Linked DNA regions of Homo sapiens: region 1 is linked to region 2. Evidence: fine-mapped expression QTL. Tissue or cell type: whole blood. Region 2 holds a variant in brackets; the other region holds the start of a gene. All regions are shown on one strand. Distances are between the middles of the regions.

The links. PIP is the estimated chance that this variant, and not a neighbour inherited with it, causes the effect.
Region 1: TREML2 starts here. The variant in region 2 is fine-mapped to the expression of TREML2 in whole blood (TOPMed, PIP above 0.99).

Annotation. Positions count from the first base shown.
Region 1 is chr6:41,197,734-41,205,103 of GRCh38, forward strand. TREML2 (triggering receptor expressed on myeloid cells like 2) reads right to left here and starts at 3,416. Exons shown (of 5, transcript NM_024807.4): 1 at 3,221-3,416; 2 at 376-696. The coding sequence starts at 3,275. RefSeq lists an enhancer at 3,635-3,704.
Region 2 is chr6:41,275,361-41,283,530 of GRCh38, forward strand. It overlaps TREM1 (triggering receptor expressed on myeloid cells 1), which reads right to left. Exons shown (of 4, transcript NM_018643.5): 2 at 7,035-7,391; 3 at 5,601-5,793; 4 at 1-870. The coding sequence ends at 765. Among named protein-coding and RNA genes, the nearest start is that of TREM1, 7.2 kb to the right of the region's middle. The variant T/C (reference allele first, on the strand shown) is at 4,666.

The sequences.
Region 1 (7,370 bases), 78 kb before region 2:
TGAGTGTTTTTGCTCACTGTCTCCTTAGAGCCTAGAATAGTGCCTGCCCCATAATAGGGGCTCAATGAATTATGTTGAAGCAATGAGTGAATAAAACACAGCACAGACAGTGCCAAGTTTGAACCTTATCTCAGCCACCTGCTAGCTCTGGGACCCCGGACAAGCTCAGAGTCACACTGGGTTTTCAGGTCTCATTATCTTCATCTGTAAAATGGTGACAATAGTGCCACGAATAGTGCCATAAAGGCACTCTGAAAACACTACAGTGCAACATGACCACTGATGGATTATTATCCTTATTATCTCTGATGTTAGTGGAGTGTGGGGCAGGAGGGACTCCCTCCACCCGTCCCAGAGCCACTGCAGCCTGCTCACCTGGAGACACATCCAGCTGGAAGCCCATCAAGGGGTACAGGATCCCAGAGGTGTTGCGCATGCACCAGTATCGGCCTGAGTCCTGGAGCTTGAGGGCCACCATGGTGATGTTGACCACCTTGGCCTGGGCATCGTCCTGCAGCAAGTAGCGGGGCCCTTTCACCCAGACTCGGGCAAAGCCAGGCTCACACTTCTTCTTCCTGATTTTGCACCAAACCTTGCCCTCCACGCGGTTTTTGTAGCCCTTATAGGAGCACTGCACAGACAGAGTCTCCCCTTCAAGGAGCCTCACTTTTGTGTATACACTGTCAGCAGAGGGGCCTGTGGAGACAATACTTATTGAATAAGGTCTGGCAAGAGGAGAGGAAGAAGACATCATGAAAGTTGAAGATCATGGTGAAGGGTAGAGTGGATATTGTCCTGCTGTCACAGAACCCACAGATTGAGGGGGAAATACAGCCCCGCCTTCAGGGAGCTTGCCCCAATCTGAAGGGAGGTGAATGGGCCCTGAAAACAGCTAGCTTCCAGTATTACAGTGGAGACACAACCCCCGCTCTCAGGGAGCTTTCAGTCTGATGGAGGAGGCAGGTATATCCCTCAGTGAGTCCCCAGTCTAATGGAGGAAACGCAGCATTTACACTCGGAGCTCCATCAGACACAGCCCCTTTCCTCATGGTATTTTCTAGTCTGATGGGAAAGTGACAAGCTCTGTCTTCAGGGATTCCCAGGGAATTCATTTTTGTTTTGTTTTGTTTTGTTTTGTTTTGTTTTTGAGACGGAGTCTCGCTCTGTTGCCCAGGCTGGAGTGCAGTGGCACGATCTCAGCTCACTGTAACCTCCGCCTCCTGGGTTCAAACTATTCTCCTGCCTCAGCCTCCTGAGTAGCTGGGACTACAGGTGCCTGCCACCACGTCCGGCTAATTTTTTGTATTTTTAGTAGAGACGGGATTTCACCATGTTAGCCAGGATGGTCTCAATCTCTTGACTTCGTGATCCACCTGCCTCGGCCTCCCAAAGTGCTGGGATTGCAGGCGTGAGCCACTGTGCCCGGCATCCCAGGGAATTCTTGTGGGAAAAACCCAGGTCATGCCCTCAGTGAGACAGATGCAGAGACACAAACACAGGTCATTAAGTTGTGAAATTTCAGTGCCCAACTAACTAGGTAGATAAGAAAATCTAGTATTTGAAAATATGATTAACAGTTATTTATTTCACAAATAGGTTCACTTAGTCCTCTTTAAATAATAACTCTCCTTAGTTCATTCCATCTGGTGTTTAGTTTTAAAATATTCTAGTTACATAAAACCCATAGATCAAGCCTGTCTAAATATACATGTAAACAAACTCCCAATGGAGTGTGAACCACAGGATTCTACAATTATTCACTTTCCACCTGCAATATCTTTCTCTCTATGCTGAGGAGTAAGATGTGGTCCAAGCCTTCATAATCCACAGTCTGGTAGAGACAGAGCAGAACTGGGGTGTGCAGGGTGACTCAGGGGACAGAGAGAGGGAGAAAGCTGCCTTGGGCTCCCTCCACCCCTCTGCCTGCCTTAAGCTCAGCTGACTCTTCTGATAATTTCACCCCAGAGTCTTCCAAAAAAACCACATATAAAAAGACTCTCCCCCATAGTAGAGAACAGAGAGCACACATTTTGGAGTCAAAATAAACAAGGGTTGAAACCCTGTTTCTACCACTTAGTGGTGTGATTAGGTCACCTGTTTGATACAGAAATATCAAAACAGACACTTGACTGATACAGAAATATCTCTGTTTCTTTATCAGTCAAGTGAGAATAGCACCACACCCCTCACAGGTTGCTGTGAGAATTCTGCCCCAGGTCAGTGCTTTGCACACAGTGCATGCTCAACTCATGCTTCCTTTTCCCACATGCTGGGGCCTCCCAGTTCCCCCAATGGAACCCAGAGCTGTGACAGTCAAGGGCCCAGAATCCAGGACATCTGTCCCACCAGAATCCAGGATATCCGTCCCAAGTCCCAGCCAGCAGCCACTAGAGCTGAGGCTCTGTGTGAAGCAGCACCCTCTCTAAGCATCCCTCTGTCCCTTGCAAACTAAACAGAATGATCCAACTTCATTATTTGGTGGATGAGCCCAGGATTTCTTAGCACAAGAGAGACCCCTTTCTGCCCTGGCAGTGGGAAGCTGTTTCTCTACCCTCTGGGAGGTGCAGAGTTGGGTGACCTTGGGATGGGTCTCCAGGGCAATGTCTTCATGTGTGCCTACACCTCCCACCCCTCTCACAGGCAGTGGTGAGTTTTGCCAACCCCCACCATGCCCAGAACTGAACAGGAAGTGGTAACTTGGTTGCCATGGCAGCGAGAGGGGCAGGAATGGGTGAGGTTCCTCAAGGAGCATTGGTATCTGTGAGGTGGGAAAGGCATTCACACACTGGTCCCTTCAGGACAGAGGCAGGGACAGGATGTGGCATCAGCATTTCAAGAAAAATGTTCAAATTCAGTTCAAAACACACATGATGCAATGATTGCTGTCATAACTAAGCAGGGCTTCCTGACAGAGGCCAAGCAGAGAAAGCTATTTGTGTGAGGAAATTGAGGGCTCTGCTTTAAAGCCTGAGGAAGCCTAGCAGATAAAGGAGCCAATGCAGAGAGGGTCCAGAGCTTTATCTTGGCTTGGGAGGCCTGGGTTAGCTTCGCCTGGGGCCTGATATTAGGGTAAAGAGCTAAGTCAGCCCTAATCTCCTCCTTCCCCAACCCACAAAACACTAAACAAGAAAACTGCTGGTAAGGAGGGTAAGAAAAAGGCCCTGAGCTCCTGCCTCTGTACCCACTCCCTCCTCCACAAGTCAGCCCCTTCTCCCCTCACCTGAGACGCAACCCTGTGGCCACAGCAGCAGCAGCAGCAGGAAGGCTGGGGCCATGGTTCCATCCAGCTGGGCAGTGTCAGGCCTGGAGATCCAAGGTGAGGGCCCACCCGACACAGGATGTGCCACCTGGGCCTGCCAGGGAAGGACCCGGGGTTCTAAAAGTGAAGCTGCCCATTTAGGGAAGTGAGGCAGTGTGGGACCCACTGCCCCCAGCCAACCGCAGGGATTCATTGAGCCTATTATGAGGGCGGTGCTGGCAGCTGTTTCCGCCCTTTTCCTCGGAACTTCAGGCAGGTGTGGCTGCTCCACCCAGTCTGGGGCCCCAAGCCGGGAGGACTCACAGTCAGAGGGCTCCCCGCCCTCCCCAACCTCCCCCAGAAACTGGTCCCTAGGATCCAGCAAGGGGGCTGGGGTGAGGCTTCTGGAACGTCAGGTATAGACCTTCCTGGAATCTTCTGGGCTCAGAGACCCAGGGGTGCGGGCTCTTAGGCTGAGATGGAGCATCTCAGACCCTAGTTTCTTACATATATACATTCACAGGGAAGTTCTTATAAACTCTCATTCATTCATTCATTGCAGATTCTTTCTGTTCCTTCCTCTCTCTCTCTCCCAGGCTCCTGGCTGCTCAGAACAGTCACTTGTGTTCACTGTTGCAAATAACCTCTTACAGGCTCACTTGAAATCTTACTTTTGTCAAGCGGGAAAAATGCAAATTGTTAAGACTCAGGGCATAAATTTTGGGTTGAGGGAGGGGTTCCTGTACTCTCACACACAGGTGTGCATGCACATGCACTCACACTCACAGTCTCACTTTGTCTTTTATTCACTTTCACACACACACACACACGCCCATGCACACAGTCTCACACACACCCCAGCAGCCTCTCCTTTTCCCTATCCATACGTCTCCTCTCTCTGTCCCTCTCCCTGCCTCTCCTCCTGTCGACTCTACTCACCATCAGCTCCCTCTAGACTCCTAGTCCCTCGTGCAGGCTTCCTACAGCCTCCGCAGTACTTCCCCTCACCCACCTCATCTCAAGACCCCCTTCCTCCCCTGCCTCCAGCCTACGTCAGCACGCAGGCAAGTGCCCTCCACTTCCTCCTGCTCAATGCTATCTCGCCTGTACAGCCACCAGCTCCAGTGGAAATGACCCAGCACTAGGCCCAAGACCACACCCTTCACTTACCCCAAGGCCTAGAATCAGAAGCATCAATTTTTGATGTCCGGTACCTGTGTCATCTGCTCCTTCAGTGTGTGGGGACCCAGCTGGACTCCCGTGATTATGTATGCTCCCCCTACTCACTAGTGCCATGTTTCTACTCCTTAGATGGGACTGTCAAAAGGTAAACTGAGGCACAATAAAATTTTAAACAGATTATTTCAGCAAACAACAATTCATGAATCAGGCAGCTCCAAACAGAAGAGGTTGAGGAGCTCCACTGGGGGAATGCAAGGGGAAGACTCCTACAGGACAAGTAAACTGAAGAAAATATTTAATTAGTTATAGTTATATAGTTCCCTTATTTGGCCTATCCTGTTGGAAAGACCCTAGTTAATTATATAAGTTTCTTTTGATTGGTTGAGCTTAAGTTCTATTTTTCCTTAATATACACATTTACAAGAAATAGCTCGTGTTAAGTTTCACTGATATTTGCAAATCAAGCAAAGTTGAGGTCACTTATGAGGCCTAACTGTTTTTTTAATTTTTGCTCAGGGACTCTTCAGGCCTGGTCTCCATTTTCATTAATTTTAACAGGACTCAGAGCAAAAAGTCCTCAAGCTTGCATGGCCACAATCTTAAATTGACCTTGAAGCCCCAAGCTCCAAGCAAAGAAGTCTATCTCGGCTGACCCTAAGCTTTTGTAGTCTCTCAACTCATTCACTCACTCATTAATTCATTCATTCATTTGTTCATTCCCACAACCTCATTGCTATGCATGGGGCTAGGTAGGCACTGGGGGCGTAGGAATGAGACACGATTGTCACTTGAGACCTCTCAGCTCACAGACGTGTTTTGTTTTCCTTATTCACCCTTCCTTTTTCAATGTTTCTCACCCAGTCCTCAGAACTTCCTGAGCTCCCTGAGTTCAGGGGCCATCTCCCCTCCCCAGCACACACAGTAAGTTCCTCCATCCCTTCCCCCATCAGAACAGTAAGTTGCTTCAGGAGTGGGGGATTTATCTCTTGTGGGGACTTTATGCGCTTGGAATCCATGATTCTATGAAACTGATACAGTGCGCCCAGCACTGAGCCAATCATCGTCTAAAGTGTGACCCTTGGGATCACTGTGCTGATGAGGGTAGAAAGAATCAAACATTCATTCGCTGATCGAGGAAGTATGCACTGGATTCAATCTTTCTTAAGAGAAATTTGGAAGCATTGGTCAAAATCATTAAAAATACGTATACATTAGACTTTTACATCTATCATTTGATTTAATACAGCAGTGTATTTTGTCTTTATATTTATTTTTCCCATTTAAAAATTAAGGCCTAATTTACATACAGTACTATTCACCCTTTTCAGTGACGAGTTCTGGGAGTTCTAGAGACTTGTATCCAATGCCGTAATGGAGACAGAGAAGAGTGCCATCATCCCGAAAAGCTTTCCTCTGCTCCTTGTTAGTCATCCCTTCAGTCCCAGACAAACACTGATCTGGTGGGGTTTTTTCCTGTCATTTCTCTCTTTCCAGAATGGAAAAGTGAAGCACTTTATGTTGATTTATTCTGGTGAAGTCCAATATATAATTTTTATGAATCAATTTTTATGTCATATCTAATAAATCTTTGCTTAACCCAAGGTCACAATGACTTTTTTCAACAATTCTGTGAGCTATAATTCACATAATATAAAACTGACCCATCTAAAGCATACAATTCAGTGGTTTTCAATATATTCACTGAGTTGTACAACTAACACCAATTTTGCAGGATTTCCCCACCCAAAGAAACCCCATGCCCGTTAGCAGGCACTCCCTGGATCCGTTTACTGCAGACTTGGTGGCTTAAAACAGTATTAAGTTATTGTCTCGCCATTCTGAAGGCAGAAGTCTGAAGTCAGTTCACACTGTATTGAGATGAAGATGTCGACAGGGCTGCAGTCTCTCCAGAGACACTAGGGAAAAATTTGTTCCTTGCCTTTCCAGCTTCAGGTAGCTGCCAGCATTCTTTGGTTTGGGGCTGTTTTACTCCAATCTTCAAGGCCAGCATCTTCAGTCTCCCTCTGCTCCATCTTCCCATCACTTTCTCCTCTTTGTGTTCAAATCCCACTCTGACTCTCTTACATAAGGATACATGTGATTGCATTTAGTTCCCATCTACGTAATCCAGGATAATCTCACCATCTCAAGATGTTTAACTCACTCATATCAGCAAAGATCATTTTTTTTTTGTTTTTTGCCATATAAGGGTAACAATCACAGGTTCCAGGGATTAGGACACAGATATCTTTTAAGAGACCATTTATCAGCTTACCACAGTCCCCATTCCTACAGTCCCAGGCAACCACTAATATTTTTGTCTTTCTAGACAAAAATATCTTCAATCAAAAATGCCTTTATCAATTCTGGATATGTCATAAAAACATAATTGAACAATATGTGTTCCTTGTGACTGGATTCTTTCATTTGGCATGTTTTCCAGGTTTGTCCATGTTGTAGCTGTACTTGTGCTATACGTTGTATTAATACATCATTCCTTTTAAAGGCTGAATAATATTCCACTGAATGGATATATATGTTTACCATTTATCAGTTGACAAATATTTTATTTGTTTCCACTGTTCAACTATTATAAGCAGTGTTACTATGACTATTCATGTACAAGTTTTTGTGTGGACATACGTTTTCATTTCTCTTGAGTACATAACCAATAGTAGAACTACTGGGTCATATGGCAACTCTATGTTTAACATTTTCAGGAACTACCAATAGTTTTCCAAAGTGGCTGCAAATTTTACACCCTCTCCAGCAATGTATGAGTTCTCATTTCTCTACAATCTCTCCAATACTTGTATTGGCTTTCTGTTTACAGCCATCCAGTGAATGTACTTAAGTTTTGAATTGTAGTTACCTAATGACTAATGATATTGAGCATCTTCATCTTGAGCATGCACAATTTGCTCATTTGTATACCCTTGGAAAAATATTT
Region 2 (8,170 bases):
CCAGTGGGCAGTGGCTTATTCATGTGGCCTCGTTCTAGTCACATACATTTCTGCCTTCACGGGGCTATTTTCAGGATCCAGCGATAAATGCACACAGGATGTCTGACATGGTCTGTTGTTGCTCTCCTATGGATCCCATCTCGGCCTGCCAGTATTTCCCCAGAAGAAGATACTCAGTTTAACTCTTTTCTCTGAGAAGGATGCACTTTCTCACCACGATGTCTTATTTCTCCAGGTTCCACAATCTTCAACACCCTTTTCTGGGAGTGTTGGAAAGAACCACACATAAGCATGAAACCCAAGTGTCTGATGCTAGAAAGAGGAAGTCCCAGCATGGGGCGAGCAGGATGCTTCTGTAGTGGGAGCTCTGTCCAGGTCAGGCCAAAATTGTATGGTCCAGGGCAAAACTGAGCAGGAGAAGTATCAGGTGTGCCTTCTGCATGTCACAGCCCCCACAAGAGAATTACGGTGAAAAGCATTGAGCTGTCTGTATTTCATGCCAACCCCAAGTGGCTGGTGGAATGAAGGACCAAGCATGTTTGGGGCTGTAACTTCTTTTCTGAGGCACAAATGCCCACCCAAGATTATTAGAGGAACGAGGGCAGTGGGCAGGAAGGTGAGACGCTGACTTTAGAAATAGCCGGTGATTACAGATTTAATTCATGTTATTAACTCCCTGCCTTTTACCTCCTCCCTCCTCCCTTGGCACAACTGCCAGATGGATGTGGCTGGAAGTCAGAGGACATTCTCGTGGGTTCGTGGGCCTAGGGTACAAATGACCTCAGCGTGACAGCAAACAGGACAGAGAAGACCAGGCTCTTACTCAGGAATCCACCAGCCAGGAGAATGACAATGTTGAACACCGGAACCCTGCGGGAGACAAGAGGCTGAACGCTACTGCTGGCAAAGTCTCTCCCACACGCACATGTTCCCTCTAGAAAATGCCTTCATGTCCCACTCTCCTCTGCTTAGATCCTTGCTCCACCTTTCCCGCACTGCCTGACCCTGTGCTTTTCAGTCTGTCTCATTGCCAAAAACTACTGATTAGAAACAATTCAGTGGAGAGTATAGGTCCCTGTCCAGGAGAGGCACTGGAGGGAGACAGTCGGGCTGATCAGCCCATCCTCCTCCCTGTGATGTGGTAGGGAGAGAGGACTCTGGCCAGGAAACCCGCTCTCTATTCTCAGTACCGTACCCTGCCTACTGGGATGGTCATCTCACCTCTTTAGCTCGGTTTCCTCACCTATAAACCGAGAAGAATCCACCCGTAGTGAAAATCTCATCATGAATTTTATAGATTTTGGCGAAATGATTCTAAGGTTTCTGGGTAAACATCAATAGGTATCATAATAAAAAGATGCAAAGGAGTGAGGGCACTTGGCCAGTTCCATCAGCAGACATGCAAGCAGATGAGAGCACAAGGATGTGGCATGGTAAGACACAGGGACAGACAGATGGCAATGGAACACAAAGGCCAGATGCAGAGCCAGTGCTATGCAGGAACATAATGTCTAAGGAAATCAGAGGTCCAGTGGATAAGCCGGACGTGGTAGCATGCACCCATGGTCCCAGCTACTTGGAGAGGCAGGAGGATCATTTAGTAAATAGTCTTGCAGTATCTGGACAGCAACATGGTAACGGTGTAGGCTTTTCTACAGTTTATAGCATGTAGCAGAATAAATCTTCCCCCGGACTAAACATTTAAATAAAATAAAAAAAAAACAATCCAAGAAAAGTCACCAGGAAATAGAATCAAACACATTAAGGAATAAAGCAAAGCAATTGATTTAAAATCAACACACCCACCTATACAAAACTTAAAACCACATGCACAAACTAGCAAAGAGGGAAACGGCGTAAAGGAGCTAGAAAGCAGAAAACTGCCTATTTGCCTGAAATCCACCCCCATTCAAGGGCCCTGACTTGTAGCACAGGGGACTACATTCCCAAGCCTGACTGGTCGAGTTCAGCAACTGGTGGGGGACAGGGGGCAGAGACGGGGGCAGGGATGGGGCAGAGAGACAGGCAGCAAGGGGCAGGGAGCCAGCATCTCTCTCACCCCTCACATGGTGGCGCACTCAGCATCCTCAGCATCTGCCCCGATTCCAGTGCTGCAACCTGAATGTCCTGGCTTCCGGGCTCTGCTCACTGCACCTCCTCCCCAAGTCTCTCCTGCCAGTGCTCTGCATTATCCACTCTGAGTGCTTTACCATTTTCCTATGCTGAACTCCTGGGGCATGTCCACTCCCAACAGGCCACCATCTGCATTTTTTTCGAGGCTGCACACAAGCTACCAACCCCCTGAAGGGCCAGGAATTCATGTGCTTGGCCTTGGTTAGAGCTGCCCTTGCTCAGTTACTGCCCCTTATAGGGACAACTCCAAATGTGACCCAGGAGTCCCCAGAGCTCCTTAACAAGACTGAGCCAGAGTTATCCTGTGAGATACCCCTTGGTTATGACACGCTTGCTTGGCTTCCTTCCCTTCCTGGTCCCACTTCCTCAATGGCTTTGCCAGAAATCACTTCCTAAAACATTTTTCTTTTTGTCTTTTTTTTTTTTTTTTTTTTTTAGAGAGAAAGAGAGCAGGATCTTGCTCTGTTGCCCAGGCTGGAGTACAGTGGCTTGATCACAGCTCACTGAAGCCTTGATCTCCCAGGCTCAAGTGATCCTCCTGCCTCAGCCTCCCGAGTAGCTGGGACCATGGGTGCATGCCACCATGCCCTGCTAATTTTTTTATTATTTTTTTGTAAAGACGGAGTCTTGCTATGTTGCCCAAGCTAATCTCAAATTCCTGGGCTCAAGTGATTCTCCCACCTCAGCCTGCCAAAGTGCTGGGATTATATGTGTGAGCCACAACACCTAGTCCTAAAACATTTTAACAAGACTTTACAGCTTGCTTCTGGGGAAACTACCTAGAGATAGGGTGATAGTGGCTACCTCTGCAGTGCCTCTCCATCCCCAGGATAGCGTCTCAGCTCTTCCATCACCTGGGCAAACAATTCCCTGCATTAAATTCCTTCGTTTCATGGCTGGATGTGGTGGCTCACACTTGTAATCCCAGCACTTTGGGAGGCCGAGGTGGGAGGATCACTTGATCCCAAGAATTCGAGATCAGCCTGGGCAACACAGGGAGACCCCCATCTCTACAAAAATAATAAAAAGTATTAGCTGTCCTGGTGGTATGCACCTGTGGTCCCAGCTACTTGGGAGGCAAAGGTGGGAGGAGGTTGAGGCTACAGTGAGCCATGATCGTGCCACTCCACTCCAGCCTGATTGACAGAGTGAGACCGTGTCTCAAAAAAAAAAAGAAAAGAAAAAGAAAAAAAGCTTCTTCTTTTCAAACAGCTAGTGTGGATTCCACTTTCCAGACTGGATTTTGGCTGAAAGGATAGTTCATATTAGATGATAGATAAAGTTAACAGATAAAAGAGAGATGCAGTCTCTAGCAGCAAGGCAGGAGAATAGGGTCTGGAGGCAGGAACGTAAGACCAATTCATGCTGAATCATGGAGCAACACCAAGGTCTAGGGGCAAGAAATCTAGGATGGATTCGTGCTGACTTCCCATAGCTGGATCAAAAGGAAAACTCCTGGGGCTGGGGTCAGGGAACCTAAGGCCAATTAACATAAACTTTCTAAAGCTAAAACAAAAGGAAAAACCCCATCTCCCCATGCCCCAGCAGCAAAGAATCAAAGGCTACTCTCCCTACAGCCCTCCCCCTTCCACCACGTCTCAGCTGGAAAGGGAGAGTGTCTTAGATTGGCCCTGAGCCAAGCAGAGACGACCATCCCTTTACCCACAGAGGGCGCCAATTCACCTTAGCCTTTAGTTAGCCACAAACCAAATGCTTCATCCAGATAAGGGGTAACTGGGAGGAACTTCACGTGGAGTACTTAAAACCCAGAAAACTTTGTAACTTGGCCCTTGAGCCACTTGCGTGGGGCCACTTCTACCCTGGGGAGCGCTTTCTCGCTTAAATAAATTCCTGCTTTCACTGCTTCATTCCTTTGTTACTTTGTGCGTCTTCTCCAATACTTTGATTAAAAGGCCCAGAACCTGGACAGCTTACACTTAAGGCCCTCCTTCCGGTAAAAGTAAGAATATGGGCAAAGATTATGTTCTCTTAACTTATGTATTGCAAAATGAAAGTAGAGGAAAAAAAAAAATTGACTCTTAGTAGATCATTCGTTTGATTTATTCCACAGAAGTTTAATGAGCACTTTGTTCCCCAAACAACATAATGGGGAAAAAGGCACTGCCACTACCCATATGGAGGTGGAGTCTACACTCATAGAGAAATTAGAGCAGGCACCAGTTCACATTTGTTTTAGCAGGAATGTGATTTAACTCACACTATTTAATGATTTAAAAGACTAAATCCGTGTCTGTAAGCCTGCCATGACACTGCTTTATTTATGCTTAATGGATCACACTGCAAATTGTTTCCAATCTTTTGGAAGACCATTGGTAGATGCTATTTGTATACAAAATGATATCAGTGTTTAAATTATCTCATGGAAATTTCGAGTTAATTATTTAAAAGAAGAAAAATATATCTGCAAGAATATGTTTATCTCAGAGTTATCAACACTATATCAATGTCTAAGAACAGGCCAATGGTTATGTAAGTTATGGCTTTCCCAATTGATAGAAAAATATGCACTCA[T/C]TGAAATTATATTTATGAAATTTAGGTAGCAGCATCAAAGAATAATTTCAGCAAGGAAAAGAATAAAAACATGTATAATTAGACTTACTGCCATATTAAAATATGTATAAACATGAATAAAGACTAGAAGAGAATATGAGAAAAAAGACATGTTAGACTAGTGGTGATGTGGAAAAGTATTTCCATCCTGATAATTCAGTATTTAATGATAAACACATTCTAATATAAATCAACATTTAATAACTGTAAAGAGGTGTGAAATTGCTAAGTTAGTGGTTCTTAAGTTTGCCTACACATTAGAAATCTCCTAAACATCTTATTAAAAATACTGAGAGGGACCTCATCTGCAAAAATTCTGATTCTATTTATCTATAATTGGGCACATGCAACAATGTTATTTAAAAAACAATAAGGCAAAAACCAATACTGCATTTAGCCCCAGCTCCAGCTCCTGCTGAGAGTTATTAGGTGGACAATGTCTTCCAGCTTTGGGTTTCTACCATGCCTACTGAATTGTCAAAGAAGCTAAAGCCAGAGAGGGTTCCTGACTCACCCAAAGTCACATTCAGTTAGTCAGGCCAACACTAGATCCAGGGCCCCTCACTCAGAGTGCTTTCCCACTGCCCATCAGGCCCCTGGGGTTGGATGAGCTCCACTGGAACTTGGGGAAGATGCCATTTCCCTCTCTTTAATACTCAGGTTGCAAGGAAACAAAGAAGGTGAACTGGGGAGAAGGACAGCCTGGCTGAGAGCCTCCCCTATTCTCCATCACCACTTCCTTCTTCCCCTGGACATTTCTACCCAGACTAATGTGACTCAAGTCTTCTCCTGCCCCACCCTCCCCTTTCCCTCACTTTCACATCCTCTCAGCACACAGACTGGGAAACAAAGGGCTCAGTGTCCAAACCAGGGGCCCAGGGACCTGGAAACTATACCTGATGATATCTGTCACATTTGTAAGGTTGATTTCAGAGTCAGGAGTGGAGACATCGGCAGTTGACTTGGGTGGAGCTTGGGTCACAGTTCTGGGGCTGGTATAGAGTGGGCACAAGGCCTTAGTGGTGGTAGGAGGAATCTTATACACATTCTGGGTAGAATTCTCATTGGAGCCAGGGGTCCCTGAAAAACCTGCAAGAAGACACATTGGATGGATGGATGGACAGATGGATGATGAATGGGTGGATGGGTGGGTGAATGGATGTATGGATGTATGGATGAAAATGTGGATGAGTTGATGGACGGGTAGGTGGTACGGTAAATGAAGCTGAGGAGGGAAATGAGCATGGCCCAAATGCAAAGTTTTCCTTTGCTAAAGCCAAAGAAATACTGTGGAGTCAACCTGAGTCAGAAATCGAAAAAAGGAAAGAAGAAAAAAAGGGCAGGAAGTGAGGGAGAGCAGAAAGAGAGAAGAAGAAAGGAATTTTTTGTCATTCGTACTGTTGGAAATGAACTTGCCTTCTGTTCTTCACCAATTCTTGTGCCCCAACCTTCTCCAAGAATAATTCCAGGCTTACTTGATTCACTCTGCCTTTCGTTCACCTGGCTTATGGCATATTGCTTTAAAAGTTATCTTTTATTAATATATTGTGTGTGCACCTTGTCTTCCTCAGGCTTAGAATTCCCCAGGTGCTGGGAACTTGAGCCTGCTTCCCTTTCCTCTGTCTTCCATAATTCATTCCTTAATGCAACATCTCCTGAGGGCCTACTTTGTGTCAGAAACTACATTATTTGCTAGGGGTGCAGAGCCCAGGAAGGCACAGGTGCTTCCCTCAAGCAGTTCTGAAATGAATAGGGTACAGATAAGTAAACCCCCCTCTCCTATCCAGTGAGTAGAGTTGTGTACAAGGGGACACAAAATGAGCTCTGGAGACTTGCTCCCCCAAAATGGGAGCCATGGACCATCAGCATTGGCATCACCTGGGAGATCAATAGAGATGCAGACCCCTGTACCCATTCAGTTGGAGTGTGCATTTGAAATAAGATCCCCAGGTGGTCTGTGCCCACAGAAAGATGTGAGAGGGGCTGCTTCAGAAGCACACAGGCATGCCACCAAACGCATCCTTGGGAGGGGGAGTCAGGACATGACTTCTAAGTGGAGAACAAAGAATGGGACTAAATTATCCCAAATCTACCACTCACCTTAATTGTACCCCAATTCCTACCACAGCACCCAAAATTAGGCTGTGCTATCCAAGGAGAATCTCATGCATGGAAGGTTCTACTTACTACTGGACCTTAGATGAGAGATAAAGAGGTCCTGGGAGGAAGACAGACTGCTGGGAATCCTGAACCCCAGCTCTGCTGATGCTACCACCACTGCCCCTTTCCTCACCTGGCCCTTCTTTCCCCCCAAGTCCCAGGCCACTCACCCTTGGTCACCACCAAGCGGATGCGATCGAACAGCATGTGAGGCTCCTTGGGAGGCTGGTAGATCACACACTGATACAGTCCAGAATCTTCCACTTGAAGGTTGACCATTCGGACGCGCAGTAAACCATGATCATGGTAGTCTTCTAGTATGATCCTCCCCACTTGGACTGGATGGGAATTCTTTGAAGGCCTCTCTGTGCATGCCAGGGTCTTGGGCATCTCTCCGTCCCTTATTATCTGCCAAGCTTTCTGGCTGCTGGCAAACTTCTCTAGCGTGTAGTCACATTTCACATCCAGGGTCTGCCCCTCTTTCAGTTCATACTTTTCCTCAGTTAATTTAGTTGCAGCTCGGAGTTCTATAAGCAGGGAAAGAGAATGGGTTCTGTGAGGAATTATTTTTCTCTCTCTGAGTGGGGAAAAAGGAGAGGAGCCCCCTGTTTTTCTTGTCCAACCACCCATATTTCAGATGAGGTTCTTGAGGCCTCCAGAGAAAATACAACTTGCCCTGCAAGCCAGCACTAGACCTCAGATCTTTCCACTGTGAGTAGGTTTTTTACTATAAGAGACTGCATATGGTGCATGAGGATCAAATTTCATAAATGATCAGAAGAGGAAGACTGACTTTGAGAGGAAGAAACTGCCTGCCTGGAGACAGAACATGGGATATTGTACTAAGACCACGAGTGGCTGCAGCATGGTGGGAGGGATCGATTACAAGGGCGTATGACATAAAAAGTGAACGCAAAGACACGGTGCTAGCAGAGAGTGGCTCCAAGGACACCTTGAGGAACTTCATCTAAGTCAGGGCAAGGAGATCAGCTCAAAAGACCTTTGGACAAACAGTGAGGAAGCCGTCTGGAGGGCATGATGGGCATGGATATCTGACTGCCTGGCACTCCTTTTTCCCTTCCTTGGGTAGCAGAGCACCCCTTTCCAAGGGAACGATCCTGTGTGGCTCTACTGTTGGGGCAGCCCACATTCTCAAGGATGGGCACAGGACACAGGATTTGCCAATCCAAGTACCCCATCTCGGGGCCAGGCACAGTGGCTCACGCATGTAATCCCACACTTTGGGAGGATGAGGAGGTCAGATCACCTGAGGTCGGGAGTTCGAGACCAGCCTGGCCAACATGGT